Linked DNA regions of Homo sapiens: all the other regions are linked to region 3. Evidence: fine-mapped expression QTL. A gene starts in region 3. Each other region holds a variant in brackets. All regions are shown on one strand. Distances are between the middles of the regions.

Region 1 (10,827 bases), 46 kb after region 3:
TTTACATATTTAAATAAAAGTGTTACATCAATTTTGAAATGTATCCAACAGAATATAAATATCGTAGGATTTTAAATATCACCTACTTAAAAAAGATGTGCATGAACTCTTCACTAACCATTATAATTTTTACATTGCTTCTTCCTTGAATTTTTATTTTTATTCCTCTTCTACAGAATTTTATCCTAATATAATATATTTTTAGGTTTAAAAACTTCCTACTAGGCTGGGCACATTGGCTCACGCCTGTAATTCCAGCTCTTTGGGAGGCCGAAGCAGGCAGATCAATTGATGTTCTTAACCATCATCCTAGTACTAGGAGTTTGAGACCAGCCTGTTCAACATAGTGAAATCCTGTCTCTACAAAAAAATACAAAAACAAAATTAGCTGGGCGTGATGGCGCCCACCTGTGGTCCCAGCTACTTGGGAGGCTGAGGTGGGAGGATCGCTAGAGCCCCGGGGGGGAGGTTGCAGTGAGCCAAGATCATGCCATTGCACTCCAGCCTGGATGACAGAGTGAGACCCTATATCAAAAAACAAACAAACAAACAAATGAAAGAGAGAAAACTTCTAGCGAATCATCTTATTCATTAAAATTAAAATATTTAAAAATTTTCTGTGATTTTTTGTTTGGATCAACTTGTTATAATAATGATACACAGTTGATCAAAACAGCATAAACATGTTGCAAATTATTTTTAAACAAAAAGATGTAAAATGTTATTGGAAATGCATCTTTGGAACAGATACGGTAGAATGTATTTTTGGACCTTTGAGTAAAGGATAGTTCCCTAAATCCAATATTTTGAGCTATCCCTTTGTTTGGCACTTCAGAGGCTTTCACACCTCAGGGAAATATGCCATCATAAGACTCGGGGTATCCTGGATGGTAGGTATGCTTTACTGTTAACAAGTGGGAGAAATGACCACAGTGAGGAGAAGTGGGAAGGGAAACTGGTAGGATGCTTCCAGTGTAGCATGGTATCAGGCAAATTTGTTTTACAAAGAGTATTTAGGGAATTAAGCTCTCAGGATTGATTTCTCCTCTGGGCCCACATACACCTTGGTAAATCTTTGTCCACCTTTAATGCTACAGTTTGAAGATTGCTACCTTAGAGGGTAATTTATAGAGATTATGTTAACTAGATTGTCACATATGTGATTAAGTGGACAAGATGATTGTAGCGAACATGTGTTGTTTTTTTCTACCTCTTCCTTTTCCATTCCAGGTGGTTCTGGCAGGACTGTCAATGATACAACCTCATCTCCTACAGGCAGCCTGGCCTGGCCAATCATATTAAATCTATTCCCATGGATATAGTAGTTTGTCCACAGTACGCATAAAAACCAAGCAGATCGATAAAAGTCTTTCCCTGGAATTGGTATATAAACATTGGGGAAGAAAAGTTTACTTTCTTTGTATTAGGAGCTGCTGAGCTGGGAATATGTGACTCTAGAGCTGTTGGCAATTAGTTAGAGTGCCACTCTGCAGAATGAAGACAAGCAGAGCTAAGCAAGGAGGCAGGGAAGCCAAGGGCCTCAGGGAGCACAGAATTCAGTCCTTGGTTCCTGTAGCTTTTCTTTTGATCCTTTGAGCTATCCCAGTATATCCCAGTAGTTGTTTTTAGCTACATGAGCCACTAAATTACCTATTTTTGCTTAGGTTAGAGCTGGATTTTTGTTGCTTCTGAAATACTTTTATTAACAACTGAGAAAAGTAAACAAAGTGCTGTGAAATATCTTTTGTAAAATGAATAATTTTGAAATTTTGTCTCTTCTAGATTGTTGGACCTTCAGATGGAAGTAGTTACATTATAGATTACTATGGAACCAGACTTACAAGACTGAGTATTACTAATGAAACATTTAGAAAAACGCAATTATATCCATAAATATTTTTTAAAAGAAACAGTAAGTGATATATATATATATGTAATATCTTATAGTGGTATATTATTCATATAAAATTATGAGAATTTTAGGACCATAGAAAATTTTAAGAAACCGTATAAACCTCTCAGGTACCCCTATGCCTGAAACATCTCCAATCCTTTGAAAAGCATTTTAGTCCACGCTCATGGCTCCTTCGGTTCCCACTTCAGACTCTTTGCAGTGCATATGGTTAAAGGACAAAGTTCACAAGAAAAAAGTAACATCAAAGCAAAAAGGCATTTATTATTTGATGGTTATGATGAAAGTATGTGCCGTAAATAGCTCAATATAGCAGATATTTCTGCTGCCCATCCCTCTAAGGGTCAGTATAATCTTTAACTTCCTTCTTTGCTTCTCCTTCCCTGAAACTGAAAATAGATACTGAAAGAGTCCAAAGCCTGAATTCCCTGTAAGTGCTTCTTCTAACCTAAAGTTTGGCTCTGGCTGTAAGAATTATTGGCCTCAGCTTTATCTTTTTCTTTTTCTTTTTTTTTTTTTTTTTTGAGACAGAGTCTTGCTCTGTTGCCCAGGCTGGAGTGCAGTGGCTCAATCTTGGCTCACTGCAACGTCTGCCTCCCAGGTTCAAGCGATTCTCGTGCCTCAGCCTCCCCAGTAGCTGGGACTACAGGCACACACCACCATGCCCGGGTAACTTGTATTTTTAGTAGAGATGGGGTTTCGCCATTTTAGTCAGGCTAGTCTTGAACTCTTCAGGTGATCCACCTGCTTCGGCCTCCCAGAGTGCTGGAATTACAGGCGTGAGCCACTGTGCCTGGCTGGCCTCAGCTTTAAATAAGTGATAAACCTGCTGAAGTCAGAGATACCATCCTTTTTCCTGGTTCAACTCTCTGGTTTTCTAGGACTCTGCTACTACAAGGTTTTTTAAATTTCAATTACCATACATTAGTCTATTCTAATAATCTTCCAATAATGCAAACTTTTACTCAGGATTTTGGTAGAATATCAGGAAAACCATTTCCTGGTATAATGATTCTCTGTAATAGAGAAATCCTATATATCATGTAGGGTGAAGGGTAGTTTTTATGTAATAGTTCACTTTGAGCTGTCTAGCAGCTGTCTAGAAGCTTTCATAGACACAGACAGGTAGAGAGAAAGACAGGGTAGATGTCTTAACCATTATCCTTGTTCTAGGGTTTTCAGTCAACTCTATCTCAAAGGACTGCTTCTAGAGGCCAGCAAGAGAATAGACATTTGTTTTCTGTCTTGTAGAACAGAAACAGGATATGAAGTATACTTTTGCCCTTTAGGTGGATTTTTTTCTTTTCTAACAGTAAAATTATGGATATGCCTTGTAGTTATTGTCATGGGATTGAACAGTGACACACCCTCAAGATGTAAGGAATTTATTCAACTGATTGTCCAAAAGGTTTTCCAAATCTTATAAACTGTAAGTCATTGAGCCTTAAAATTAGAATAAAGCTTAGAGATCCATCTACCTCTTCTTACCAGGAAAAAAATCAAGACCTAAGGAAGTTGAGAGTAAGATACGCAACTAATTAGTGCAAAACTGAAACTAGAATCTAGGTCTTCCATACATTCTGTCACATGGTTGTTCTCTTCCTCCCATCCTACCCCAGCTCCAGTCAACTGTATCATTTTGTATTAGGCATTTTTGTTTTGGAAATTGTTTCTCCTATTTTATGAGAAGGATTGTGTAGTTTCATGTAACTTTTATTATTCATACTGTAAATTGTGTCTCTTTCAAAAGTAGATTGTTTCTAAACCATAGTGTGTAAAAATTAAGCAAATGTAATTTTAAGAGGAATCTCATTCTTGGTAGCCTATTATGTAAACATTTAGGTGGGATTCCAGATTCAGATTTGAAACTTAAAACCTGAAAGGCCCATTGAGAAGGCCAGTATCTGCATTATCATTCATGTAATCTCTCTACATTATACAGAAGTGCTCCAAGAATGAGAAAAAAATACATTGAGCAAATGAAATGTTAAAATGTACATCTGCAATAACCTCATTGGACTCTTAAAAAATATTGTGTTTTAACGTATTTCTTCTTTCTGTTTTAGGATTTGAGCCTCCTTGATTTTAATAGAGAACTTCTAGTGTATGGATTTAAAGATTTCTCTTTTTCATTCATATACCATTTTATGAGTTCTGTATAATTTTTTGTGGTTTTTGTTTTGTTGAGTTAAAGTATATTATTGTGAGATTTATTTAATAGGACTTCCTTTGAAAGCTGTATAATAGTGTTTCTCGGGCTTCTGTCTCTATGAGAGATAGCTTATTACTCTGATACTCTTTAATCTTTTACAAAGGCAAGTTGCCACTTGTCATTTTTGTTTCTGAAAAATAAAAGTATAACTTATTCACATTTTTAGTGCTTTGTTATTGAGAAAATCTTCTTAAATGTTGAATGTAGCTGTCTTACCCATTTTGATCCTTCAAAGCAGTTAATCCATGGTGTGAACAAATACCATTTATATTGCCTGGGGCTTCAGTCTTGTGTATGACAACCCACCTGTTTTTCTGCAGCTTTCAGATCTGTCTTTGCCTTGGTATCCAGGGAGCTAAAGATCATTAGGGAGTCTGTGAAACTTTGAGGCAACATGTACACTTCTGGCATTGATTCAGGCCTCTGAGGTGTGAACTTCTTCCTTTTTTGCTTTGGGAGTGCTACACTAGCTTTTGGAAGACCAGATGCTGACTCATCTAGCTCACCGCAGTTATATTTGAAGCTGGATGGACAAGGTGGGAGCACCAAACAGATGATTAATGTCTTCCATCTGTGAGCACCACCAGGCAGATGCCGGCACAGGTGCCTTAAGTGATGTACCAGTGTCTGAAAAAAGCAGCACCTGTATGTTAGCACTGATTTTTCTTACCATGTTTAGAGGGGTTTTAAGAAGATGGAAATACATGAAATGTTATGTCCCCAGAATACTATCCCACTTTTTCTTCAGTAACAGGCATACCAATTTCAAAATTACTAGTGTCGGTACTCCTCAAGAGTAAAAACCATAATTTTTTGTCACACATTTTCCTCAAAAGTGGACAGTATAGTATAATTAGCTTCATAACATGTAAATCATTCAATAGCTTCTCAAGTTGGTGGGAGATTATTAAATATTAATATATGAAATGAATTTGGGTTGACCCCCAGTGTACACCAGGAACATCTCTTTGATTTGTTCAAAGAGACGTTTGAACAAGTTTGATTGTCTACTGAGTGGGAGGCCTGATCTATATGGGGGGATGCAGGAGTGAACAAAATCCCTGCCCTTTAGAAGCTTATATTCTCTTGGAACTTACTTTTTCACCGTGATATTTTTGGTCACAGTTAAACTAGTTGGTAGATACTCATTTTCTAGTGTCCCTGAGGTTCCTTTAGGTTGCAGACAGTGCTTTGTAGTTTACTTCGGTATCATCTAAGCCCAGATTGTAAGTCATGTTTCCACAGTCAGGTTAGTTCAACTATATAAGAAATACCTACTTGGGAGGCTGAAGCAGAAGAATCACTTGAACCCTGGAGGCGGAGGTTGCAGTGAGCCGAGATTGTGCCACTGCACTCGAGCCTGGGTGACAGAGCGAGACTCTGTCTCAAAAAAAAAAAAAAAAGAACCTGCAGTCAAATTTTGGAAAGTAATCTTGATCCTTGCATAATAGCTATAGTCATTAACTTGGCCAGGTAGTAAGTCTGTTTCAAAGCAGGTGATGCTAAAAAGTATTTGTTCAAATAAGCTATACTCTTAAAGGGTTGTTGATGAAGCATAGAAACAAAGTCCCTTCACAACACATTATTAAGCCTTTAGACTTTATTTTCACTTTAGTTTCCTGAATTTGCATGACAAGAACACTTCTAGTTTGCCTAATTCTGTTGCCTAATACGTAATTCTTTAACAGATTTTTTAATAAACTC[ATG/G]TGAATGCATTTAAATTCTATTTGTCAGCTTTTTTTCTTTCACTGAGCACTATTATGACAATTTGTTAGTAGTGTGTATGAATATGAATTATATGTTAAACCCTCTCTATCAGATGTTTTATATGTCAAACCTGCTTTTATATGAGTGACCAAAATTGTGAGATGCATTAGCTCAGTCATTCCTTATTACTGCTAAATCCTTTTAAGGCAGAATGGAAAGGATTCTTTCAATCCTATAGAGATGTTTAGTGCCTTGTAGCAGTGATGTACAAATGATACTACTTTTGCCTAAAGGATTGGTATAATTTCCAGAAGTACCTATTTACCCAGAAATATTCCTTACTTCAAAGATTCTGTTATGTCTGTGGCCAGCATTTGTTCATGGAACTGCCAAGAGTATAAAAGAAATATTGGTTGGGGGTTATTTTATTTTTTTTTTAGATGGAATTTCACTCTTGTTGCCCAGGCTGGAGTGCAATGGCACAATCTTGGCTCACTGCAACCTCCACTTTCCGGGTTCAAACGATTCTCCTGCCTCAGCCTCCTGAGTAGCTGGGATTATAGGCACGTGCCACCACGCCCCACTAGTTTTTGTATCTTTAGTAGAGACGGGATTTCACCATGTTGGCCAGGCTGGTCTTGAAATCCTGGCCTGAAGCAATCCTCCTGCCGTGGCCTCCCAAAGTATTGGGATTACAGGCATGAGCCACCGCACCCCACCTGATAGATACATTTAAAAGGAAAAGGTAGGATGCCATATTAGAGGTCTGGCATCCAAGCAGCATGGGATGATAAAAGTATAGACTTATTCTGAGTCCTGAGTGCATTCTGTTTCTCATCCCTTAATTTGTGACTGAGCACGTAACCATTCTTAATCCCTCTGTCTTCATATAAATAGAGGTAGTGACACGTGTCAGGTAATGTTGAAAGATTAAGTGGCAGATACTAATTATGTATTGAACACATTTTAAAATAATGGGATAATGGCATCAAGTACTGGTGAGGTCTGTCTGGAACTTGCAAGAGGTTCTGCACAACTGGGCTATAGCATGGTTATTTCTTAAATAAAATGCCAGTGGGCTCAAAAGTCTCTTTTACAAAAGGAGGGTAAGACACTTCGTTTGGACATTGTTTACCTGTTTTTCTTATTATCTTTATCCGTATCTGTAGTTACTGGATGTAATATGGGCCAAAAGTGTCTTTTTTTTTATGAAGAATTAGTCTTATTGGCACCTTCACTCTTTTAAGACTCTATGTAAGAAAAAGCCGAAATGTTACAGATTTTGTTTTTGTTGCTTTTTCATCTAAAGTTCGCTGGAGATAGTTAATAAGTTTTAAAATGTTGCTGTGAGGCAGCTGATCAGCCTACTTTCAGCCTAAATTATGGTTAATTGCAAGCAATCACTATGCATACAACAGTGTTGCTTTTAACCTGTCAATGTTATCAGAATATGCCAAGCATGTGGAGATTAAAACTTGAAAAATGATTAAGGATAGAGCTATTTGGGCTGCATATGCCAAAGAAAAACGTTTTACCAGAATACTCTAGCAAGTGTGGTGTTTGGAACTTTTTATCATGTGAGCTAATTTTGTGTTTAAGAAGGTATGATTATGAAGGCTCAAGATCCTATCTTTGATTTTTAGAAAAACCTCAAGATTCGACTAATTCTGAATAGATTATGAAATTCACCTATTATTGCAATATGAGAAACATTAAGGAGAATGGCATGACTTCTCTGTGTGATTTGTCACTGAGGCAAACTATTGGAATGAAATGGTTCAAGACATAACAAAAGTTGTTTTTAATAAGTGTTTTGAAGGCTGGGCCCGGTGGCTCACGGCTGTAATCCCAGCATTTTGGGAGGCTGAGGCGGGCGGATCATGAGGTCAGGAGATCGAGACCATCCTGGCTAACACGGTGAAACCCCGTCTCTATTAAAAATACCAAAAATTAGCTGGGCATGGTGGTGGGTGCCTGTAGTCCCAGCTACTCGGGAGGCTGAGGCAGGAGAATGGCATGAACCCAGGAGGTGGAGCTTGCAGTGAGCCGAGACGGCGCCACTGCACTGCAGCCTGGGCGACCGAGTGAGACTCCGTCTCACACACACACACAAAAAAAGTGTTTTGAACCTTTTAAAAGGTATTCAAAAGAAGCAAATTTATTGTTTATTAATTCTCAACTATTTATTGACCTACTATGCACCTCTTCTGCTCTTGTCCTCCTACACTATATTCTCCACACAGCAGCCAAAGAGATAAAAATAAATGAGAAAATGCTACTGTTCTGCCTATTCTCCAGTGGCTTCTGTCATGCTTCAAATATGCCATATTGATTCCTTTTTGTTTTTTTTTTCATAGAGACAGTGCTTCACTATGTTGGCCAGGTTGGTCTTGCACTCTTGGCCTCAAGCATTCCTCCTGCCTCCGCCTCCCAAAGTGCTGGAATTACAGGCATGAGCCACTGCACCCAGACCAATTTCTACCTGAAGTGTTTTTTTTTTTTTTTTTTTTTGAGACAGAGCCTTGCTCTGTTGCCCAGGCTGGAGTGCAGTGGCATGGTCTCGGCTCACTGCAACCTCCACCTCCTGGGTTCAAGTAATTCTCCTATCTCAGCCTCCCAAGTAGCTGGGATTACAGGCACATGCCACCATGCCTGACTAATTTTTGTATTTTTAGTAGAGATTGGGGTTTCACCATATTGGCCAAGCTGGTCTAGAACTCCTGACCTCAAGTGATCCACTTGCCTTGGCCTCCCAAAGTGCTGGGATTACAGGTGTGAGCCACACGCCCAGTCTACCTCAAGATTTTTTACTTAATCTTTCCTTTGCCTGGAGTTCTCTTTCCCACGTTGTTACATGACTTGCTTCCTCAGTCAGGGCTCTGCTCAAATATTTTATAAACATTAAAATTCTCTCTTTGAATGGGTGGTTTCTAGAGGTGGTTCCTGAGAGAAGATCAGGGAGTAGATTATTAGAAATAATTAAAGGAAGCTACTAAATTGCCTATTATTTGCTATGTACTCTCCTGACCTGATTATCTCACTTAATCCCTATAATCACCCCGTGAGACAGGACGATTAGTTTCCCTTCCAGTGATAAAGGTCTTTTATGCTATAGATATCATTGGCTAGCCTTTAATACGTTAACGGAAGCTTTAGTTAAATATTGTGCCCCTCTGCGGAACCCAGGCTAGTTTCTGATTCAATTTTTTAATATCCACCCACCTATTCATCCAAGTATGCCATAAAGGGTAATGCTTAAATTCATGGACTTTAGGATCAGACACACCTGTCACTTCTTATGACCAAACTCTTAGGCCCTTGGTTTCTTCATTCTTAAAATGGACATGTTAGTATCTTTCTCATGCATTTGTCATAGGGTTAAGTAATATATTCCACGGTGTGTGGCACATGGTAGGTATTTAATAACTGATTGTTTTTAAGATTTTTGTATTTTTTATCTCATGTACTTCCAATGCTCCTACAAGGTCAGTACAGCCATTTATATATCCATATTATATACATAATTAAAGAAGGTTAGAGAGATCAAATATCTTGACTAAGATTACACAGCCAGCAAATGATGCTTAAAACCAGGTTTGTGACTCCTAAGCCCGTCCTCCTAATCACTATACAATATCACTTCCCTTTTATGCCCTCAACTGGCCATATATCTGTCTCATGTTTTAATAATTTCCCCACTGGAGTTTTTCATCAAAAAGGAAAGACAATCTTACAAAAGCCTAATGGCTTCATTTCAAAAAGAATATTCTGGGTGCAGTGGCTTATGCCTGTAATCCCAGCACTTTGGGAGGCTGAGGCGGGTGGATCACCTGACGTCAGGAATTTTAGACCAGCCTGACTAACATGGTGAAACCCCGTCCCTGCTAAAAATGTAGCCAGCCGTGGTGGTGCATGCCTGTAATCCCAGATACTTGGGAGGCTGAGGCAGGATAATCACTTGAACCCAGGAGGCGGAGGTTGCAGTGAGTCGAGATTGCACCATTGCATTCCAGCCTGGGCAACAAGAGCAAAACTCCATCTCAAAACAAATAAAAAAAATATTATATTGAGGCATGTATAAAATGCCCAAATCTTAGTATAAAGCTTGATAAGTTTCTGCCTATGTATGCACCCATTTAACCACCATCCAGTTCAAGATAAAGAACATGTCTAGCACTCCAGAAAATTCTATAGTGTTCCTTCCTAGTCAGCATCCACCCCTCATGGATATCACTCTTCTGTGAGTCTATCACCATAGATTAGTTTTGCCTGTTTTTGAACTTCATGTGTTTGGCTTCTTTCACTCATTATTACAGTATAGTATTCCACTGTATGAAGGTGTCAAAAATATTTATCCAGTCTACTGTTGCCAGAGCTGTCAGATAATAAATATGTGTTGTTTTAAGCCACTAAGTTTATGGTAATTTGTTATAACAGCAATAGGAAACTAATATAGTTGTTATGTTCAAAGTGAGTTTCTTATAGGCGGTTATATTGTTGGATCATTTTTCCCCTATTCTGCTAATCTCTGTCTTTTAATTAGTGTATTTAGGCCACTTGCATTTAAATTAATTATTGATATATTGAGGCTTAAGTTTGCCATGTTATTACTTCTTTACTGTTTCCTCCCTCTGTTTTTCATTCTTCTGTTTTTCCTTTTTGCCTTCTGGGCATTACTTGAACTTTGAAAAAATTAATTTTCCTCTATGATGCTTTCGAGCATATTGCCCCACATAATTTTTTTTAGTGATCTCTCTAGACATTGCAATATAAATACATAACTTATCACCGTCTACTGGTGTCAACACTTTGCCTCTTTAAGTGTTGAAAGCTTACTTCCATTTAGGTCCCTTTGTGCTTCCCACTTCTAAAATACAATTGTCTCAAGTATTTCCTCTACATATATTGAGCACCACCACATCAGATAGTGTTACAAATTTTGCCTCACTTAGTAGCACCTGTAGGCTATTTAAAAAAATTTTTGTCTGGGTGCGGT
Region 2 (10,827 bases), 84 kb after region 3:
TCTTCCACTGTTCTGCATGCACTGTGTTTTCTTCAACTAGCTTATAAGCCAAACGTTAGGGCCTTTCTTCTTAATCTCTATAACTTGAAACTCCTCACTGAATGCATAGTAGACATTCAATAGGGATTCAAAGCCAACCTGATACTTCAATGTTGGGTAATATGTTATCTACCAGGTTGGATTCAAGCAAGAGAGTTTGTGGTGTGGGGTGTGTGAAGTGACCAGGGATGTTTCCAGTTGTCTAGAGACCCTCATGTCTTGATAGCAGTGCTGTTAGTCTCAAGCTTTAATTCCGTAAAGAATAGCTCATGAAAGGCAGCAGAATGGAGAAGAGGCCATATCAATGAGAACCTGGATTTCTGGTTTTCACTCTTTTCTCAGGACACTGTTTGGTTTGAAGAGGTCTAATTATGCCACTTCTACCAGCAAAACCAGTGGAACAGATCCTTCTGAGTAGTATGTTTTAGTGTAATTCCCTCTTCCATATTTTCTCAAGGAAAAAACATTTGCTTATTGGCATTTGGTCTTAGTATTAGGACAGCTTACAGACTGTGGGCAAAGGCTGTGTGAAAATAGGCATATTGATGCATAAGGTTATTTTTTTATAACTAGGTGAAAGTAAAAGTTGGATTAAAATTATATTAATTCATGTAGTGAATATTCTTGATGCTTTGGGCAAACGTTGCACTCTGTTAAACCTGGCAGACACTTCTTGAGCACCTCCTGAGCCCAGTGCTGCAGATTTAATCATTGACCTTGAGGAAATCAAGGCTAGAGAGGGAGTCTGTATCCTGATTTGTTTTAAAAGTATATTCATTAGAATGTCAAAATCTAAGAGGTGTGGCAAGAACTTACGTTTCTTTAAATTTGTGGGATTTTAGAAAGAATAATTGGAATCTTGAAATTCTGCAGTGCTTGATCTTTAAATTGTAGATCACGAACTTTCCAAAATAGTTTCAAGATTATCCTGCATTGGAAGGAGTCAGGTAGAACAGCAGAGGTGGCCATCAAACAGTGTCTCTCTGGCTCTGCCCTGTCTGCTCTGTGAGTATGTCCACCATCTTTTTCTATCTGACAGTTCTGGAAGAATTCAAGGAGGTTCTCACGTGTAATTCATTTATTGGTCCTTGGGTGCTCAGTGGTGGACACTGTTTTGGTCCTTTCCTTCTCTTGTTCCTTGTAATGAATCTTCTTTCACAACAAAAGCTGGAGTCCTGGATCAGCAAACACAGTCTAGTTGCAGGCCCACTAGAGGCCTGTCACTGCCACTTGGTGCCAGCAGGCACGTATGGCAATGCCTTTGTTGGCACACCCTCCAATTCTAGTGCTGCCACCCACTCTGCCTACAGATACATTTGATGCCTTTCCTCTCCTTCCTCGCCTGTGCCCAAAAGTCTCTGAAACAAAACTGGAGCTCACACCTGAACCTAGTTAGCAATCTGATCAGGAGCCAAGTCAACAAGGAATTTCGGAGTCACAGCCCTTCTATTCCCCACTTCATATCCCCTGCTTGCAACCTCATCATGGCAGGAGAGGCCTGACATGAGAAGTCTGATTTTTTGTTCAGATGTCCCAGATTGTGCCCGTTTTCACTCTTACTTTCCATCTCCTTGGGAGGAATAGACTTAAAATAGACTTAAGGAAGCTATTATGTAGGTGTATTTGTAATAGGACATATGTCTATGCTCCCCACACCCGGCAAAGCCCAGAGAAACACTCCTTTTATCCCTACAGTTAGCTCCAGCCTCCAAGGAGGAGCAGATTTCCCGAGGCTGTTTGTCCTAGACCGTCCCATTCCCAGTAGGGGTCTGAGCTGTTTGGTTTTATTGCCCACCTTATAAATGAGAACAGTCTGGTTTGATCAAGAGGTTAAGAATCCAGACCATGTGCCCAGCACACAAAGCAGTAAGGAGCAAAGGCTTTGTTAGTCAGAGCTTGACTCCAAACTGACTGCCACTTTCTTATCCAGTCTAAGACCCCGTTACCTTATCTATATAATGGGGAAATCCTTATGAAAGTGAGAAACATTAAGTAAGATTATATATATATTGTGTTTAGCTTAGGTCCTAAATCACAGTAATCACTCAGTTATTGTTTGGTACTAATAATAACAAAAATAGCCAAGTGGTTTATTTTAAAATAGCAAAATCTGTAGCAATAGTGTTATAACATGTCTTCTTGTCTCCAGCTCCTTACCCTCCGCAATCCATTTTTTATTCAGCTGCTAGATTCATCTCCCTAGAACATTGTGATCATATTACACCCCATGTGAAAATGTTAGATCGCTTCTTATTACTTACACCTAAAGTCCGAAGTTGTCTTTGCATTCAGGCCTGTTGGTCTGGCCCCAACAAAATATTACCCCCGTTTCTCTACTACTCCTCTTCACACCTCCTCCACTCCAATTAAAATAAACCAACATTCTTCATGTACACCCACACCCTGCACACTGTTTGTTCTTTTTTATCCAGAATCCAGATCTTATCTCTCCTTTGATGCCTGGCTTAAGTGCCACCTCCTCCACTAAGACTTCTCCAGCCCATAATAAACCTCATAGCTCTTGATGGACCCCTTGTCATCACACAGATATCTAGGTAAAATTCGTGCTTAAAATTTATATGTATATCTCTTACATCAGATGATTGGTTTTAGCTATCTAATTCATCCTTGTATTCCTAAACCAGAATTTCTCAACCTCAGAACTATTGACATTTTGGGCCAAATAATTCTTTTGGGGGGTGAGTTACTGTGTGCATTGTAGAACATTCAGCAGCATCCCTGGCCTGTACTCACTAGATGCTAGTAGCACTCCAAAGCCCCAGTGGTGACAACCAAAAATGTCTCCAGACATTATAAAATGTCCTCTGGAGTGCAAAATCACCCCCAGTTGAGAACCACTGCCCTAGATTCCAAACCATGGAGGTTTGAACATGAATGGTTCTCAGTAAATGCTTATGAAAGGAAGGAAAGAGTTTGGCTTAGGCCCTTTTAAGTTTGAGACAGTAGTGGAATATATAATTAATGATATTCTTTCAGCATTTGGGAATAGAAGCACAGAGTTCCTTTGAAAGCTCAGAACTAGAGATTGATATTTGAATGCCACTGGCATAGAATCAGCTAATAGGCATTTCTTGTGTTACATAATGTTTTGAAGTCCCGAGTCAGATAGGAGTTGGGATCCAACCACTAGCCTTACCATTGTAAACTGTCACTGTAGGTGAGTATTTTAACCCTTTTGAGCTTCAGTTCTCTTGTTCTGTAAAATGGGGGTAATAATTATAACTCGCATGGGGTTGCTCTGAGGATAAGTTAGACAATGCATGTAAAGTGGTCATTTGAAAGCCTGGAATGTAGTAAGCACTTAGTAATAGTTCAGCATTATTATTAATATTGTGATTAATAATAATGATTAATTTTTAATCCATTCAGAGGTCATGACAGTGTTAGTTCCATTTTATAGACAGGTTGTGGTTAGAATCTGGATCTGCTAGGCTGGGCACAGTGGCTCACGCCTGTAATCCCAGCACTTTGGGAAGCCGAGGCTAGTGGATCACCTGAGGTTGGGAGTTTGAGACCAGCCTGACCAACATGGAGAAACCCCGTCTCTACTAAAAATACAAAATTAGCCGGGCATGGTGGCAGGTGCCTCTAATCCCAGCTGCTCTGGAGGCTGAATCAGGAGAATCACTTGAATCCGGGAGGTGGAGGCTGTGGTGAGCCGAGATTGCGCCATTATACTCAAGCCTGGGCAACAACAGTGAAATTCCATCTCAAAAAAAAAAAAAAAAAAAAAAAGAATCTGGATCTGCTTAATTGCTATCTTTCCCTGGATCATATTCATCTCACATAATGCACACAGCATCTCACTTCCCAGAAGGATCTTCACCTTTTCATCTGGAAACTGAGTGCTAACTGCCTACGGCAAAAATTCCTTTTCAATTGGTAAATAACATCTTCTTCTATAACTATCATTGGGAAACTCAGTAACTGCTTATTAAGTGCTTTGGGTAAATAGATGGAGGAGATATTGTATATAAGACACCTGTGTTGCCAAAACAAAGCACCTGCCTGTTTGTAGCTTACTAAACCACAGGCTCAAAGATTCTGTCCCTCAGGCTTTAGGAAATGAATTCATAAGTTTAGCAACCATTGGCATTAGCTCCAGGCAGCGTTTGATTTTTGGAGTAGAGCAGCATGAGCAGAGGCTGTGGCCCAGAGCAGAAGCTGGGGCAGAAGCCCAGGGACAGGCCAACAGGTGGGTGGGGGAAGCTAACTTCCTCCTGTGAGAGCTAATCGGCTGAGGGCATCCAGCAGGCCAATGCAAAATGAGTCTCCTGCCCTTAGAAAACAAATACCAGACAGGTCAGGAAAATTTAGCCCCAAACCAGTTCTGTCACCAACAAACTGGTTGACCTGGGAAAAGGCATTTAACCTCTTCAAGCTTCTGTTTATTCGTTGGCAAATGAGGGCATGGGATGAAATCGGTGGTACTCAATCACTGCTCTGGCACATCGGAGGTGGAACACGACTAGCCTACATGGTGCAGGATTTTTGTAGTAATTACTAGCCATCAAAAATGCCTGACAACTCATACATATACCTGAAAAACAGTGTTGGGGTTGGGGGTTGGTTTTCTTTTTATCATATTAGGTTTCTGTTATTTGATAGATTGGATTATTCAGTTCATTCATTCATTCATTCATTCATTCAAATGTTATTGCCTGAGCATGCTATGTGCTGGGCCTGTCCTGGGACCAGGTGCTGCCTTTGCTTTCAAATGGGGTTTACCTGGAACCAGTTAAAATTCCTAGGTCATAGGAGGTGACATGATACCTTTTCTCCTCCAAATAAGAATCGCTGAATCTGATATGACTGTGGGTAATCTGGTCATGGAAATCCCTGCTTCCCAATCCTTACCACTTCTACCGACCCCCATTCCTACTGGCTAGGAAATTCTCTAGGCAATTATCAAAGTTCCCCCAGCCCCCACCGGGTTCCTGCAGACGCCGAGGCGTCTACTAGGTTTGCCTTCTGATTCCTGTAGGTGGAGCCAGATCCCCCGGCTGAGAAGCCCTGGGCCTGCTCTCTGCGGCGGCCGCCGAGCGGTAGGTTTGCTCTCCAGCTCTCTTTTCCTCCTTCTCCCTCTCTCATGTGCGGTCTCCCTCAACATCCAAACCAACCGAGTGCGTCTGAGGTGAAATCGTGCCAGACTTAGAGACGGCTGCCAGGTTTCTCTCAAGTCTTGGCTTAACAAAAGAAAGCAAATTACAAAAATGGAAATTTTCAAACTAGCGTTCAGTGGTATTCAAATCGACGTTTGGGTAGCGCACAGGCACAGACCGCATTCGTGCTATTTTGTGATTAAAATGATACCAAAAATACCTCCTTGCTTTGGTTTTCGTCTTCGAAAACGACTTCTTTCCTTCTTCTAATTTCCCCCTTACTTTTGGGAGCGGCAAACCCCTGACCACTCTAGAATTGCTAACATTTGGACCGGCGTCTGTTGAAATCTTGCCTCTGCTGACTTTTTTTTTTTTTTAAGAGTTGAACTTTAAAAATGTGTGCACTTTGCAGCCTGGGGAAATACAGATAAAGAAGTTTCTAGGCACTT[T/C]CCCAGGAAGTTCTGTGTTTTGTGTGAGGAACTACAAGTTCTATGACAGTGCATAAATCGTCTTTACGTCTCATCTTGATACCGGGAGCAAACCTGAATGCGCGTCTTGCCAGCATGCATGCTACCTCGTTCTCCTTTGAGCATGAATTGTGTGCTCTGTCTCATGCTTTTAAAACATGGGTTTAAGGTGGCCATTGAGTTGGATCTTGAATGATTTTACTTAACATGAGGTTTTATAAAGAGCTTGATTGACCACGTCCTGCTCGATTATTTTTGCGGTTGCTAGACAAGGCCCTGTCCCACGTGGGTTTGTGAGAAAGGTGCTCTCATCATCACCCCACCCCCAAGACTGCACTATTTCTTTCCTTGGAAGCGTTGACTGTCTCCTTCTTACACAGCTGTGTTTGCAGTGCCTGGAGACAGGTGGGGGAGCAGTCTTGGAGGCCGAAGCTGCCAATTCCTTCTCTAAGGACTGTCTGAATAGCTATTAAATTTTAAAGCTCACACGCACGCACACACTTGTTTTGTTTGTTTTTGGTGGTGGTCACTCACTGTGCCTTCCCGTTTGTTGTACAAGGGCAGCTGCACCAGTTTGCCAGAGTGAGATTAAATGTCACAGACAGACATTCTATTGTGTGCATTCGCCAGCCCACCTAAGCATCACCTTGGGCCACTGCCATGTCTTTCTAGGTGCCTCAGAAAGCTGGGTCCTGTAGCATTGGCGGAGTTGTGGGACTGCTTATGAATTTCGGGAAAGAGGTTCTCCCATCTGGATAGGTAAACTTAAAGCTCCCACGAACACTGCAATACTCAGGCAGTAGTCACATCAAGAGGTTCTTGTTGGTTTGGGCCTACACGAATTAGGATTCTCTACCTGGCACAAGTGACTGTGGACAAATCAAGCTGCTAGTATTTTTCAGATTTCAGAATAGAGGGATGACATTTTAATCTGGAATCAGATACCCTGCTCTTTTTACCCTTTAGCCCCAAATACCCAGTGCTCTTCAGGACCCTCGTGCCTTTGCTTGTGCTGTTTCTTCCTCTGGGAATTTCTCCCCCATCCTCTTCTCTGCTTAGTAAACTCTTGTTGGTCTTTCAAGGCTTGTCTCAAATACAGCCTCTTTGAAATCTTTCATAGCCGTGCCCATGCACCGAATTTCCACCCCCTCCCTGTCATCTGTTAAATGTCGCTGTCTTGCTAGATCTATGTAACATACTACGTACTGCATAACTGTGTTACGCACATCTTGGTATGCCTCTTTCTCCCCTAATAGAATATACTCTTTGCCCAGGCAGGGAACACGTCTAATTTACCTCCTACTTCTCAGGCTAAAGATGCTCAGTAAAATCTTTTGAATGAATAAAGAAACATGCTTGGTTTTTTCATCAATTTCCAAGAGACAATGTGTTTACTTTCAGGCTCTCCTAGTTCAATTGCCAGACACCTATAACCATGTCCGTAGAGCTGAGAGTAAGATTTTAAAGTTTATATTAAAGTCTGATGTTCATAGCTCAGAGACATTCTTTTGGCTTACGGTAAAGGAAAGTTTGATGAGCACGTTGGTGGAAAATTTCTGTATTCCCAGCACCTGATTGATGCCTCTGTTCCTACAGAATCCAAAGAGAGCAGAGCACTCCTGCAGACATGGGAGCTTGTGAAAGTTGTGTAGCTCTCCTACTGCTTTGGTGTAGTCTTGCGGATTATACTAACAAGTTGTTATTCATTAGACTTTACTCATTAAGTCATTCAAACTAGAAACCTGAAAATGTCCTTGGAGCCTCCCTCTCCCTCACTTCCCACATCCAGTTATCACCAAATCATGTCAGTTCTTCTCCACAATATCTCCCAGATCTGCCCACTGTTCTCCATCCTTGCTATTGCTGTGTTCCAAGCCATTATCACTTCCCAGCTGGACAATTGCCAAAGCCTTCTAGTTAGTCTTTCTGCTTCTAGTCTTGCCTGCCTCCCATCATGTCATTCCCTGGCTTACCAGCTTTCAGTGACTGCACTTTGCATAATCCTTTGCATGGCCTTGTGTGGTCTGGCCCCCAGTATCTTTTTAGCGGCTCTCTCACTGAATATACTAGACTTCAGGTCCTTGAACTTGCCAAACTCTTGCCTACTTCAAGGCCTATCCATATGCTTACTTGCCTACTTCTTTTGGGAATACTTTCTCTCAGCGTTCACTCTCTTGGATCACTTCTCATCTTTCAGAATTCAACATACATGGCACTGCCTTGGAAATGCAGTCCATGCTTCTCCTTTCTACTTCCTCCTTTCTGGATAAATCACATCCCCATTATCGTTACTCCTGATGCCCTATTTTTCCTTCATATTACTTATTAGTGGTTGCAATTATAAAAAATTATTGATGTTTTTATGTATTTTATGTCTGTCTCTCCATCCACAGTAGATCAAATGAAGGCAGGGATCATGTCTCTTTGTTCAAAAGAGTTTACCAGGAGACCCAGTATCTAACATATAGTAGGTTGTCAAGAAATACTTTTTGGATAGTGCTGGAAGGAGAATGCTAGCAGGTCGTGTGTAACAGGCCTGTGACGTGAAAATAGTTTCATGCAAAAGAAAATGCTGATCTGAAATGAGACTTAAGGATGTTTACGCACATGGAACAAGCAAGGGGAAGACTTGAGTTTTGATATGATATCCCATGGCCTTTCCCCACTGCTATTTGAAAAATAAGAAGAGAACAAGAACAAAAATATTTGTTTTACAACTCTACCAAGATTCAGCCCTCCCCTTTCTCTCCCCCTTGCATCAAGTACATCCTGTACTTTTGGCAACATGTTGACTGGATATTTAAAAGCTGTGAACTGTTCTGAAAATTTCACATAGTGGGTTATGGGCCATGTGTGTTTGATCAAAATTCAATTACTACACTGTACCATACTTGGAAACCTATCATCCCAAGTTATGAAGTATGACGAAATAGGCGAACCTAATTGGTTCAGTATGGGAACAGTATCAACCAAGCTTGTTATGATAAATAGCTTCCTGTGTTAAAGGTTCTCTAGAGCTTATAAGTATCTTGGCTCACCTCCTTCAATGGAATAGGAATACTGCTCCCAGGGACCCCCTAGATCATTGTCCCTTCAATGCAACTGCAGTTCAGCGTTTTCTTCAATTTACTACCCCGAAAAAGAAAAATGCAGTGCAATTTTCCCTAGTCCTTCTCGTTTCTTCATTTAGAATTTGAGCACCTGGTAACTTCTTTAGCTTTTCTTGGCCTTAGAAAAACAATTTTTAAAGTTATGAAGCATTCCAATACAGAAAACCAGAAAATGACAGACATCTCTGTACCCACCACTCAGGATTAACAAATAATAATTTTTTTCCCTATTTCCATCAGATCTTTTTTTCTTTTATGTATCCTTTCTTATTTTTTGAGGCCAAACTCAGGCTACAGTATTTATTTATGAGATTTGTAAGTTAAGTCCTGAGATACTTTAAAACCCTTTAACCAAGAGGATGTGTATCACATTACAGAGAAGTACCTGTACATCGCATGTCTTTTCAGGTGTTGAAATGGACTCAATGAGAATTTCTGGATGATACTGTAGATAGGATTACAAGGAACCCTAGAAGAGGTTTGTTGGGGATGTAGGGTGTGGTGGTGCATGCTTGTTATCCCAGCACTTTGGGAGGCCAAGATGGGAGGATTGCTTGAGCCCAGGAGTTCGAGGCTAGCCTGGGCAACATAGTGAGACCCCATATGTATCTTAAAAATGTAAAAAACAAAAAAGAAATAGTCTTAACAGCTTGAAAAGATAAAGAAGTAAAATAAAACAAAATATTCCCATGCTTTATGGTTATTATGGGAATATGTACATACTTTTTCTTTAGAAGTGACATTTTGGGTTGGGTTAGAAGTATTTCCTTCTAGTGATCGCAGTAAAGGGCAAAACAATTGGGTGACTGCCATTTTAAATTCCAAAAAATAATCAGTAGCACTGGCATTTTCCTCAGAAGACAGCGTTAGGGCTGGGACAATTTGCATATATTTACCCTTAATTCAATCTTACCTTTGCAGTTGCTTTCCCAAGTTTGCTCTCATTTTATTCACCATTTGTAGTAGGCCATCCTGTTAAACCTGTTAACGAAAATGCATAATGCTAAATCTGCATTTCCCCTGTGGAAAAGTTTTGTGTTTTATAAAAAGTCGTTTTGGTAAAAAGCAAGAACCTTAGTTTGTCCTTGACAATAATTCATCAGTCATGAGTGCTGCAATGTATAACCACGAAACAGAGAAATATCCTTGGTGAAGGTAAATATGCAAGCCCACACAAAGGAAAAGTAAATACATTGCATGGTTTAGCAGTTTGAAATCACAATGCTGCCAGGATTACATTAGAGTCGTTCTTCTTGTTTTCTGCAGTACCATTAGGTTTACTTTCAAAATTGCAATTAGCTTAACAGTTGTGATTTCTAAAATGGCCCACTTGCCTTCCTTGTTTTCCTCTATCAGGTGGACACTAGTATCATAATCCTTCCATAATTTTTAAATAGAACTTCCAACAAGAAGTGCTCCCTGAAAGCCGTAAACTTCAAAAAATAGAATGTGACTGTAGGCACTTATGCTAATCTCCCTTTTGGCAAATCAGCTTTTTTTTGTATTGGATCTTGCCTGATTGAATAACACGGGAACTGCCAGAATAAATGCTATTATCTCTGTACAGTAATTAAGGAAATAGTCTTTGTCACTCTAATACGGACCAAGCTCTGCTTGCCTGTAATAAAGTTAAACGATAAAGAATCTGGAATGTAGAGAAAAATAAAGGGAAGTCAGTTACTAGCACGTGTTTCCTCCAGATGAGTAGTAGAGAGATGGAATGATGCATTTTGCAGAGACTGATGAAGAAGTTAAATCACTAAAACATATCAACTTGTAACATTTAATGAAATAATTATTTCAGGAAAAGAAACTCTTCAATTTCTATCTTTGGGAAGAGTTGATGGTTCCTTCCTTGGTGAATCTCAATGTATTATTTTAAAACATAGCTTCTCCAAATACAGGTCAAACCCTACTATACTAAATATCAGTTTTGAGACAGTTCTGTCAGTAATCGCAATAAACATCTCACTATAATAAAAATAGTGTTAATTACATAGTTTTGAATTGATACTGACAGAAGAAAAATTTCCCTTATGGATTTAGTGCACCCAAGTGTGGTGTTCCATCTTTTCCTCTGATGTTCTC
Region 3 (10,827 bases):
GTGTTTGGTTTTCTGTTCCAGTGTTAGTTTGCTGAGAATGATGGTTTCCAGCTTCACCTATGTCCCTGCAAATGACATGAACTCATCCTTTTTTAAGGCTGCATAGTATTCCATGGTGTATATGTGTCACATTTTCTTCATCTAGTCTATCATTGATGGGCATTTGGGTTGGTTCCAAGTCTTTGCTATTGTGAAAAGTGCCACAATAAACATATGTGTGCATGTGTCTTTACAGTAGAATGATTTATAATGCTTTGGGTATATACCCAGTAACGGGATTGCTGGGTCAAATAGTATTTCTGTTTCTAGATCTTTGAGGAATCGCCACTCTGTCTTCCACAATGGTTGAACTAATTTACACTCCCACCAACAGTGTAAAAGCACTCCTATTTCTCCACATCCTCTCCAGCATCTTTTGTTTCCGGACTTTTTAATGATCGCCATTCTAACTGGCGTGAGATGGTATTTCACTGTGGTTTTGATTTGCATTTCTCTAATGACCGGTGATGATGAGCTTTTTTTCATATGTTTGTTGGCCACATAAATATCTTCTTTTAAGAAATGTCTGTTCATACTCTTGGCCCACTTTTTGATGGAGTTGTTTTTTTTCTTGTAAATTTGTTTAAGTTCTTTATAGATTCCAAACCAGAACATTCTAAAAGCATCAAAATGGTAGTCAAAATGCAAAGTTACTGTCTTTTATTACCAGGTAATATGTGTAACAGATATTCTGATCCTTAGTCTTGGATTTCTTAAACAAAAATTATGGGAGGCCATTGTTTCAAACTGAGCTCCTGCACTAGGCCCCCAAATACCAGATCAAACCAAAATGGATTCACTCATGCTAAAAGCCACATGCTCAACTGAAGGTTTAAGGAAGCAGATAGATCCCCAAACAGACCAATTTTTCCTGAAAGCAGGAGATTCCAGTCTACTTGAGTCTCCATAACAAGGAAGTCCCCTCTGCTTTAACCCTTACAAAAAACCCTACAAACCCCTTCTTTTTCTTTTTTCTCCTCCTCCTCTCCCTCCTCCTCCCCACTTTTTTTTTGGAGACAGGGACTTGTGCTATTGCCCAGCCTGGAGTGCAGTGGCACAATCATGGCTCACTGCAGCCTTGAACTCCTGGGCTCACCTGATTCTCCAGGCTCAGCCTCTTTAGTAGCTAGGACTAGAGGCATGCCCAGGCAATTTTTTGCTTTTTGTAGAGATGGAGTCTATGCTGTCCAGGCTGGTCTTAGAACTCAAACTCCTGGACTCAAGTGATCCTTCCACATTGGGCTCCCGAAGTGTTGGGGAGCCACCATGCCCAGCCTCCAACCGCGAATTTTTCTGTTGCTGTTTCTTTGTTCCCACCTTACAAAACCCAGTGTTTTATTATTGCCCAGCGGGAGTTTTCTTTCTAGTGTATAGAATGAAGGCTGCCCCACTCCTTGAATTGTGACTAAAAGTTAATTAGATATATAACTGAATTTGTTGTAATTTTGCCTTTGACAGATTTTTTTTTTTTTTTTTGAGAAGAGTTTTGCTCTTGTTGCCCAGGCTGGAGTGCAATGGTGTGATCTTGGCTCACCGCAACCTCCACCTACCGGGTTCAACAATTCTCCTGCCGCAGCCTCCTGAGTAGCCGGGGCTACAGGCACGCTCCATCATGCCTGGCTAATTTTTGAATTTTTAGTAGAGACGGGGTTTCTCCATGTTGCTCAGGCTGGTCTCTATCTCCTGGCCTCAGGTGATCCGCCTGCCTCAGCCTCCCAAAGTGCTGGGATTACAGGCGTGAGATACCGTGCCTGGCCAGATTTTACCTAATCCTTGCCTCGTAACCATGTCATAAATTTCATCTCAGAATAGGGCTGAGGGATGGTGTTGAGCTGTATATTGTACATTTGATTAGCTTTTCTGTTTGGTTTTTGTGTTTTTTTTTTTTTGTCTTTGTTGTTGTTTGCTTGTTTTTGAGACGGAGTCTCGCTCCGTCGCCCAGGCTGGAGTGCAGTGGCATGATCTCGGCTCACTGCAACCTCTGCCTCCTGGGTTCAAGCGATTCTCCTGCCTCAGCGTCCCGAGTAGCTGGGACTACAGGCGCCCACCACCATGCCCAGCTAATTTTTGCACTTTTTTTTTTTTTTACTCCAGACGGGGTTTCACCATATTGGCCAGGCTGGTCTCGAACTCCTGACGTTGTGATCCACTCACCTCGGCCTCCCAAAGTGCTAGGATTACAGACATGAGCCACTGCACCCGGCCGGTTTTTGTTTTTTAAATTCAAGGTTTTTTTGTTTTTTTATCTGTTTTTTTGAGACGGAATTTAGCTCGTTACCCAGGCTGGAGTGCAATGGCAGACCTGGGTTCACAGCAACCTCTGCCTCCCGGGTTCAAGCGATTCTCCTGCCTCAGCCTCCAGAGTAGCTGGGACTACAGGCGCCCTCTCCACGCAGGGCTAATTTTTGTTTTAGTAGAGACAGAGTTTCACCACGTTAGCCAGGATGGTCTTGATCTCCTGACCTCAGGTTATCTGCCTGCCTCGGCCTCCCAAAGTGCTGGGATTACAGGCTGAGTGACCACGCCTGGCCTAAGTAAAAGTTTAAAGGTTCGTTTTCTAGGCTATACACTGCAACCTCCGCCTCCCGGGTTCAAGTGATTCTCCTACCTCAGCCTCTGGAGTAGCTGGGACTATAGGCGCGTCCCACCACGCCGGGCTAATTGTTTGTATTTTTAGCAGAGTCAGGGTTTCACCGTGTTAGCCAGGATGGTCTTGATCTCCTGACATCACGATCCGCCCACCTTGGTTTCCCAAAGTGCTGGGAATACAAGTGTGAGCCACTGCGCCCAGCCCTAGGCTATACCTTTTTAAGCAGTCATGTATCCTACAAAAATATAGCGTTTCAACTACTATTTTGGGAGAATCTTTTTTAAATGTTTCTTTTTCTTTTCTTTTTTTTGTTCAAGCCATCTGCCTTCCTTGGCCTTCCAAAGTGCTAGGATTACAGGCTTGAGCCACCACGCCAGGCACAGGAGGAATATCTTAAGCAAACCCATTGTCCTACTACAGTAGCTAGTATGTGCTTCTAATGTAACAATTATCAAACACTTATCAAATAGTATTTAACTGTTTGTATTTTCCCTTACCAAACAGGAAGTGCTTACCTGCAGGGTTTTTGTCTAAATTTTTGAGTCTAGGGTCTAGCTTCATGCTGAGTACATAGTAAATGCTCAATTAAAAACAATTTTTTTTTCCTTTTTGGAGGGAGAGGGAGGACGGAAAAAAAGGAAAGAAAGGAAAAACGAAGGAAGAAAAAAGAGAGAAGGAAGAAGTCCATTTAGAATAGGAAGTTTATAACTGAACTACTAAATTTTTCACTTAAATCATTTAAACCTGATTTAAAGCATAAATATTATGTATAAATGTCTTAAATTAAAAATAGCGGCGGGGCGCGGTGGCTCACGCCTGTATTCCAGCACTTTGGGAAGCCAAGGCGGGCGGATCACGAGGTCAGGAGTTCGAGACTAGCCTGACCAACATGGTGAAATCCTGTCTCTACTAAAAAATACAAAAATTAGCTGCGCGTGGTGGCGTGCGCCTGTAATCCCAGCTACTCAGGAGGCTGAGGCAGGAGAATTGCTTGACCCCGGGAGGCAGAGGTTGCAGTGAGCCAAGATCGTGCCACTGCACTCCAGCCTGGATGACAGAGCGAGACTCCATCTCAAAAAATAGCAGCGGGGCGTGGTGGTTCATGCCTGTAATCCCAGACCTTTGGGAGGCTCAGACGGGTGGATCACCTGAGGTCGGAAGTTGGAGACTAGCCTGATCAACATGGAGAAACCCCGTCTCTACTAAAAATACAAAATTAGCCAGGCGTGGTGACTCATGGCTGTAATTCCAGCTACTCAGGAGGCTGAGGTAGGAGAATAGCTTGAACCTGGGAAGTGGAGTTTGCAGTAAGCGAGAATCGTGCCATTGCACTCCAGCCTGGGCAACAAGAGCAAAACTCCCGTCTCAACTCCATTTCTGTCTCTAAATGAATGAATGAATAAAGCATAGTAATGCTACAAAGTTGTTTTATTATGAAAATTTTAGGGCCAGGCGCCGTGGCTCGCGCCTGTAATCCCAGCACTTTGGGAGGCAGAGGCGGGTGGATCACCTTAAGTCATGAGTTCGAGACCAGCCTGCTCAACATGGTGAAACCTCGTCTCTACTAAAAATACAAAAATTAGCTGGGCTGGTAGTGGGCGCCGTAATCCCAGCCTTTCCGGATGCTGAGACAGGAGAATAGCTTGAACCTGGGAGGCGGAGGTTGCAGTGAGCCGAGATCATGCCATTGCAGTCCAGCCTGGGCAACAACAGTGAAACTCCACCTCAAAAAAAGAAAATTTAAAAACGTAGTTTATGTTTAAATATTACTTCAAATAGTTGTATGTCTTCCAGAATATATATTCCAAAATGAGGCCAGGCACAGTGTGGCCTCACACCTGAAATCCCAGCACTTTAGGAGGCAGAGGCGGGCAGATCACTTAGGCCAGGAGTTCGAGACCAGCCTGGCCAAAATGGTGAAACCCTGTCTTTACTAAAAATACAAAAATTAGCTGAGCGTGGTGGCGCACGCGTGCAGTCCCAGCTACTCAGGAGGTTGAGGCAGGCGAATCACTTGAACCAGAAGGCAGAGGTTGCAGTGAGCTGAGATTCTGCCACTGTACTCCAGCCTGGGTGGCAGAGAGAGATTCCATCTTAAAAAAAAAAATTTACTTCTCGTAAAACATTATACCAGTGTTCTCAAAGTGGGGGTCCCTGGACTAGCAACACCCACATCCCTTGGGATCTCCTAGAAATGGAAATTATCCAGTCCCTCCCTACATCTTTTGTATCAGAAACTCTGAGTGCCGGTTCTATCATTCTGTTTTAATAACTACTACAGGTGATTCAGATGCTATTCAAAGTTTGAGAACCACCAAAGTTAGTGCTAAAGTATGGATGAAGAAGCACCACTCAAGTTCAAATTTTTATATTGTTAGACAAAAAAAAGATTAAACTTAACTTTACGAAAACATTTTTTCCTCACTGTTAAAGTTCCCCACCACAGAACTTTTAGAACATATAGAAATTTAAAAACAACAGATGGAGGAAAAAAAATCTTCAACTTTTCACTTAATCATAAACTATTTGGTTTCCTCTTGTTACAGTTTCCACCCCCCAAATTATCCCCCACCTAAATTGTCACTTTTTTTTTTTAAAAGGCGTAATGTCTCTCACAGTTTTTAAGTTCTGTTCGTGGCAGCCTTCCAAAATCCTTCTCTAAAGTTACAGGAGGACATTATGTCAATTAGTAAGAGCATAGATCTGAAATCTGGCAAACATCAATTTCATTCCGACTGAGTCACTTAGTGATTAAGGTCAGTGTGTTTCAGCGTCTTTGAGCCTTGTTCCTTATCTGTAAACCCAAAACCTATCAGGGCTAACTGCGATGATGTCAGGAAAGCATTGATTCCAACCTCTGACGCCGCTGGCACTTTCAGAGGACCGAGAAGCCTCAGCTAAGGGCGCGGGAATGAGAAGCGGGTGAAGCACCTGATTGCCTAAACCACTCGTTTCCTTCCTCCAGCACTCAAAGATTAACCTTAGCTCCTTCCAAGGGTTCGTGGGGGAAAATTCGCCTCGAGGGACTGGGTACATGCATATTTTAAAAGGGTCTCCCAATGTGATTCCACGGGCTCACGGGCAGAAGAACACGCGAAGAGACGGAACTGGCCTCTATCCTATGCGAGGTCCCTTTAAGAACCTCGCCCTGTTGCCCTTCTCCCTCCCGCTCCTGGGCGGAGGCGGAAGCGGAAGTGGCGAGAAAGTGTCGGTCTCCAAGATGGCGGCCGCCTGGCCGTCTGGTCCGTCTGCTCCGGAGGCCGTGACGGCCAGACTCGTTGGTGTCCTGTGGTTCGTCTCAGTCACTACAGGACCCTGGGGGGCTGTTGCCACCTCCGCCGGGGGCGAGGAGTCGCTTAAGTGCGAGGACCTCAAAGTGGGACAATATCCTCTGTGGAGAACACCCCCCCATGGAGGCGAGGTAGAGTTGGGGTCGCAGGTGGGTCGCTGCCGTCAGGACTGGCTAGGGCTGTACTGAGTGAAAACGATAATCTGATCTGTGGCTTCTAATGACTGAAGGATCCCTGAAGGTGAACAGAGTTGTGGAGATGGGAGGGCCAGAGGCCACCCTTTGTGATTTCCTTATGATTTTACTAGTCATTGGCGCTTCCTCTTCTGATCCACTTTTTTTTTCTTTTTTATCAGTGTGCTTACTTGTTCAGTAAAACATGTAGATCCTGAAGTATGCCAGGCCCCGTTCTAGACACTAGTAATACAAAGATGGATAGTCTCTTACCCTGGAAATGTTTGCCAACTCTTCCTAGGGGGAAGACAAGTAATAACGATCTAGCCAATGTGTTGCCCATTTATCATTAACTTTATGTATATTATGCATATTACCTCATGTCATCTTCAAACTTCATGAGATGGTAGACTGCCAGACAAATTTCTTTCTGTTTTCTTTTTTTGAGACAGGGTCTTACTCTGTCGCCCTGGCTGGAGTACAGTGGCACGATCTCAGCTCACTGCAGCCTCCGCCTCCCGGGTTCAGTCAATTCTCCTGCCTCAGCCTCCTGAGTAGCTGGGACTACAGGCATGCGCCACCACACCCGGGTAATTTTTGTATTTTTAGTAGAGACGGGGTTTACGCCATGTTGGCCAGGCTGGTCTTGAACTCCTGGTCTCAAGCGATCCGCATCCCCCTCACCATGAACCACCGCGTGGGGACTCAGTGGATAAATTTCTGTTGCACTTTGCAACCTTGGGTGACCTATTTGAACTCTGTTTTCTCATGAGTAAAAACGTGGATAATTATGGGGCAAATTTAAAGGTTTATTGTAATGTTTATGTATTATTATATTATTTGTAGAGACAGACTTCTCGTTATGTTGCCCAGGCTGTTCTTCCCAAACTCCTGGGCTCCAGTGATCCTCCTGCCTCAAGTATTACTTAGCAATACTAAAAGTATATTTGTACATATGCTTATTGACTTGGACAAACTAGCAGCCTCTATTTACATGTGAATATCAACATGAGTATATAATATGAATAGTAAAGGCATGATAATGTGTTGTGTTGGAATGTAGTCCGTATTTCCTTAACTTTTTTTTTTACATATATTTGTAAAGATCCAAAAATAAATGACGCTACGCAAGAACCAGTTAACTGTACAAACTACACAGCTCATGGTAAGACTTCAAGAAACATGTCTTTAAAAATAATTTTAAAAACATTATTTCATAGGTCAATGTATGATCACTAAAGGCAATTAATAAATGCATTTTTTCTAAATGATAACATTATTATTCAGTTTCCAGAGTAACTTAAAACTGGAGAACTACCTAGAGGTTGTCAGTATTTAATTTAAAAAAGAATCTTACTTGTTCTGAAATGGTGAAATTTCACCATATAAACAATAATAGGGCTGGACGTGGATGTTCCCAGATTCAGTTAGGCAAGTGTACTTATATTTTATATACTTTATTTTCCCCAAATTAATAAGCATATCATTCCCTCACATGGAAAGTCTTCCTTTTATTTTCCTTTAGCTCTCCACTTATATCATCTATGAATACTTACCTGATAGTTCTTGGCTAGTGCCATAATACCTACAAGTCCTTTCTGCTTCCCAGCAACTTCATCACTATCGTTTATGTCACTTTGATAAATGTCATTTCTATTACTTTGATTATATTACTTTGGTTTATATTTGATTATATTTATTTGATTTGGGGTATGTGTTTATGTGTGTGTATTTAACATTCAGTTGGCACCAAAATGATTTTTTACATGTTTATGAATTTATTTATCAATAATTCTTAAGTGGATTCAACATTTTATTCCAGAGGACACCTAACTGGAGGGCAGGAGGGCAGACTTCTTTTGGGATAGAAATTCTTTTTAGTTGTGTCATTTCCTTTGAAATCTCCATATATACAAAACAACCCTCTAGGCGAGAAAAATACTTTTTTTATTTTTATTTTTGAGACAGCTGGCTGCCAGCTTCCCAGTATGAAGTGAGATGCTTGAGTTACACTAGTATTCACAGATTTCTAGCATCTTTCATATGAATGATTGAAACAACTATTTGAGAACTAACTCTTCTTTATGTGTAACTCTATTCTGTATTCTGAAAACTATGATATAAACAACTTCAAAGTGTAAAACAGGCAAATCAAAGGATATTTATAAGTTAACTACAAAGGAAAGGATTACTTACAAAGTTCCTTTAAATGGCCAGGCATGGTGGCTCACACCTGTAATCCGAGCACTTTGGGAGGCCAAGGCGGGTGGATCACGAGGTCAGGAGTTCAACACCAGCCTGGCCAACATGGTGAAACCCCGTCTCTACTAAAAGTAGAAAAATTAGCCAGGTGCAGTGATGGGCACCTGTAATCCCAGCTACTCGGGAGGCTGAGGCAGGATAATTGCTTGAACCTGGGAGGCAGAGGTTACAGTGAGCCGAGATCGCGCCATTGCACTCTGGCCTGGGTGACAGAGCAAGACTCTGTCTCTGGGGCGGAAAAAGTTTCTTTAAGCGTAATATATCTAAATAAAATAAATGTATACATACTAAGCAATATCTCCTCTATAAGGCATATATTATTACTTTTCTTTCTGGGTGTCTCATTATGTCACCCAGGCTGGAGTGCAGTGGTGCCATCTCAGTTCACTGCAACCTCCACCTCCCAGGATCAAGTGATCCTCCCACCTCGGCCTCTGGAGTAGCTGGGACTACAGGTGTGCGTCACCACGCCCAGCTAATTTATTTTATTTTATTTTTGTATTTTTGGTAGAGACAAGGTTTCGTCATGTTGCCCAGGCTGGTCTCAAACTCTTGGGTTCAAGCAATCTGCCTGCCTGGGCCTCCCAAAAAAAGTGCTGGGTTTACAGGCATGAACCACCAGGACTGGCTCCCTGACTTTTTTTTTTTTTTTTTTTTTTTTTTTAGCTGTAGAGATGAGGGTCTCCCTATATTGTCCAGCCTCGTCTTGAACTCATAGGCTCAAGCAGTTCTCTTGCTTTGGTCTCCTAAAGTGGTGGGATGACAGGCATGAGCCACTGTGCCTGGCTAATTGCCTTTTTTAAAACACACAAAAGCTCATGGACTAACTATGGTGAATCAATTCTAACTCCTGATCAGAGACAGATATCAAAATAGCTCATGAAACATGCTTTTTGGTTCTAACATAGGAGAAAAATATTAAGAGTTGTGAAAAGTGTGAGTTAAGTGATCTCTCTCATTCTTCCAGCCAAAATTATTTTTCCTTTGTTTTTTTCACTGAGTATATGAAGAACTATTGTGAAATTCTCAAACTATGTTTACTTTTCTTTTTCTTTTTTCTTTTTTTTTTTTTTTGAGACAGAGTCTCACTCTGTCGCTCAGGCTGGAGTGCAGTGGCGCAATCTCAGCTCATTGCAACCTCTGCCTCCCGGATTCAAGTGATTCTCCTGCCTCAGCCTCCCAAGTAGCTGGGATTATAGGCGTGCACCACCATGCCCAGCTAATCTTTGTATTTTTAGTAGAGGCAGGGTTTCGCCGTATTGGCCAGGTTGGTCTTGAAGTCCTGACCTCAGGTGATCCACCTGCCTCGTCCTCCCAAAGTGCTGGGATTATAGGTGTGAGCCACTGAGCCCAGCCTAATTTTCTTCTTTCTTTTTCTTTTTTTTAAGACAGGATCTCACTCTGTCACCCAGGCTAGACTGCAGTGGCACCGTCTTAGCTCACTGCAACCTCCACCTCCCAGGCTCAGGAGATCCTCCCACCTCAGCCTCTTGAGTAGCTGGGACTACAGGTACATGCCACTACACCTGGCTAATTTTTTGTATTTTTTTGGAGGGGTGAGTAGCGATGGGATGTACCATGTTGCCTAGGCTGGTCTGGAACTCCTGGGCTCAAGCGATCCACCTGCTTGGCTTTCCAAAGTGCTGGGATTACAGACATGAGCCACCACACCTGGCTGTTCAATTTTCATAAACTAATGTTTGGGTAGGGATGAACGTGAGCAGTGTTTTACAGAGGGGAGTTTGGGGCTAGTGAGTAGGAATTGGGACAAAAGGCAAAGGAAATTCATCTATGACAATAAATTGATGTGATCTTAAAATGGTTCTTGGTTAGCTCAGTATCATTCAATAAGTGCATTTGTTTATTGAGAAAGTATTTATTGGTAATGAATAATTTAAAACTAAATTTACTTTATTAAGACAATTTATATTACAAAATATTGTTATTGATTGAGAATTTGTTCATTTATTTATATTTATTTATTAAGAAATTATTACGTGGCAGGCATCTGCTTGGTGGTATAGGTGATATACAAAAGAAGACATAATCCCTGCCCTCAAGAAGTGTTCTGTCAGCCCGGGTGAGGTGGCTCACACCTATAATCCCATCACTTTGGGAGGCTGAGGTGTGCGGATCATGTGAGGTCAGGAGTTTGAGACCAGTCTGGCAAACATGGCGAAACCCTGTCTCTACTAAAAATAGAAAAATTAGCCAGGCGTAGTGGCACATGCCTGTAGTCCCAGCAACTTGGGAGGCTGAGGCAGGAGACTTGCTTGAACCTGGGAGGCGGAGGTTGCAGTGAGCCGAGGTCACGCCACTGCACTCCAGCCTGGGCGACAGAGCCAGACTCTGTCTAAAAAAAGAAAAAAAAAAAGAAGTGTCCTGTCTGGGTTACATACACATATATCAGCAAGTATTTTCAATTTTTCTATCACTGAAATACAAAAAATATTTAGATTTCACTTCCAGAAAA

The links.
Region 1: its variant is fine-mapped to the expression of TM2D1 in whole blood (TOPMed, PIP 0.98).
Region 2: its variant is fine-mapped to the expression of TM2D1 in whole blood (TOPMed, PIP 0.95).

Annotation. Positions count from the first base shown.
Region 1 is chr1:61,674,502-61,685,328 of GRCh38, reverse strand. TM2D1 (TM2 domain containing 1) reads left to right here. Exons shown (of 7, transcript NM_032027.3): 6 at 1,783-1,912; 7 at 3,979-4,283. The coding sequence ends at 1,893. Among named protein-coding and RNA genes, the nearest start is that of TM2D1, 45 kb to the left of the region's middle. The variant ATG/G (reference allele first, on the strand shown) is at 5,829.
Region 2 is chr1:61,636,134-61,646,960 of GRCh38, reverse strand. It overlaps LOC107984964 (a long non-coding RNA gene), which reads right to left and starts at 9,853. Exons shown (of 3, transcript XR_001738095.3): 1 at 9,813-9,853; 2 at 9,653-9,720. RefSeq lists enhancers at 4,948-4,997, 5,208-5,257. The variant T/C (reference allele first, on the strand shown) is at 5,612.
Region 3 is chr1:61,720,143-61,730,969 of GRCh38, reverse strand. It overlaps TM2D1 (TM2 domain containing 1), which reads left to right and starts at 5,829. Exons shown (of 7, transcript NM_032027.3): 1 at 5,829-6,013; 2 at 7,184-7,257. The coding sequence starts at 5,850. RefSeq lists enhancers at 5,154-5,839, 5,488-6,147, 5,184-6,383, 5,840-6,527.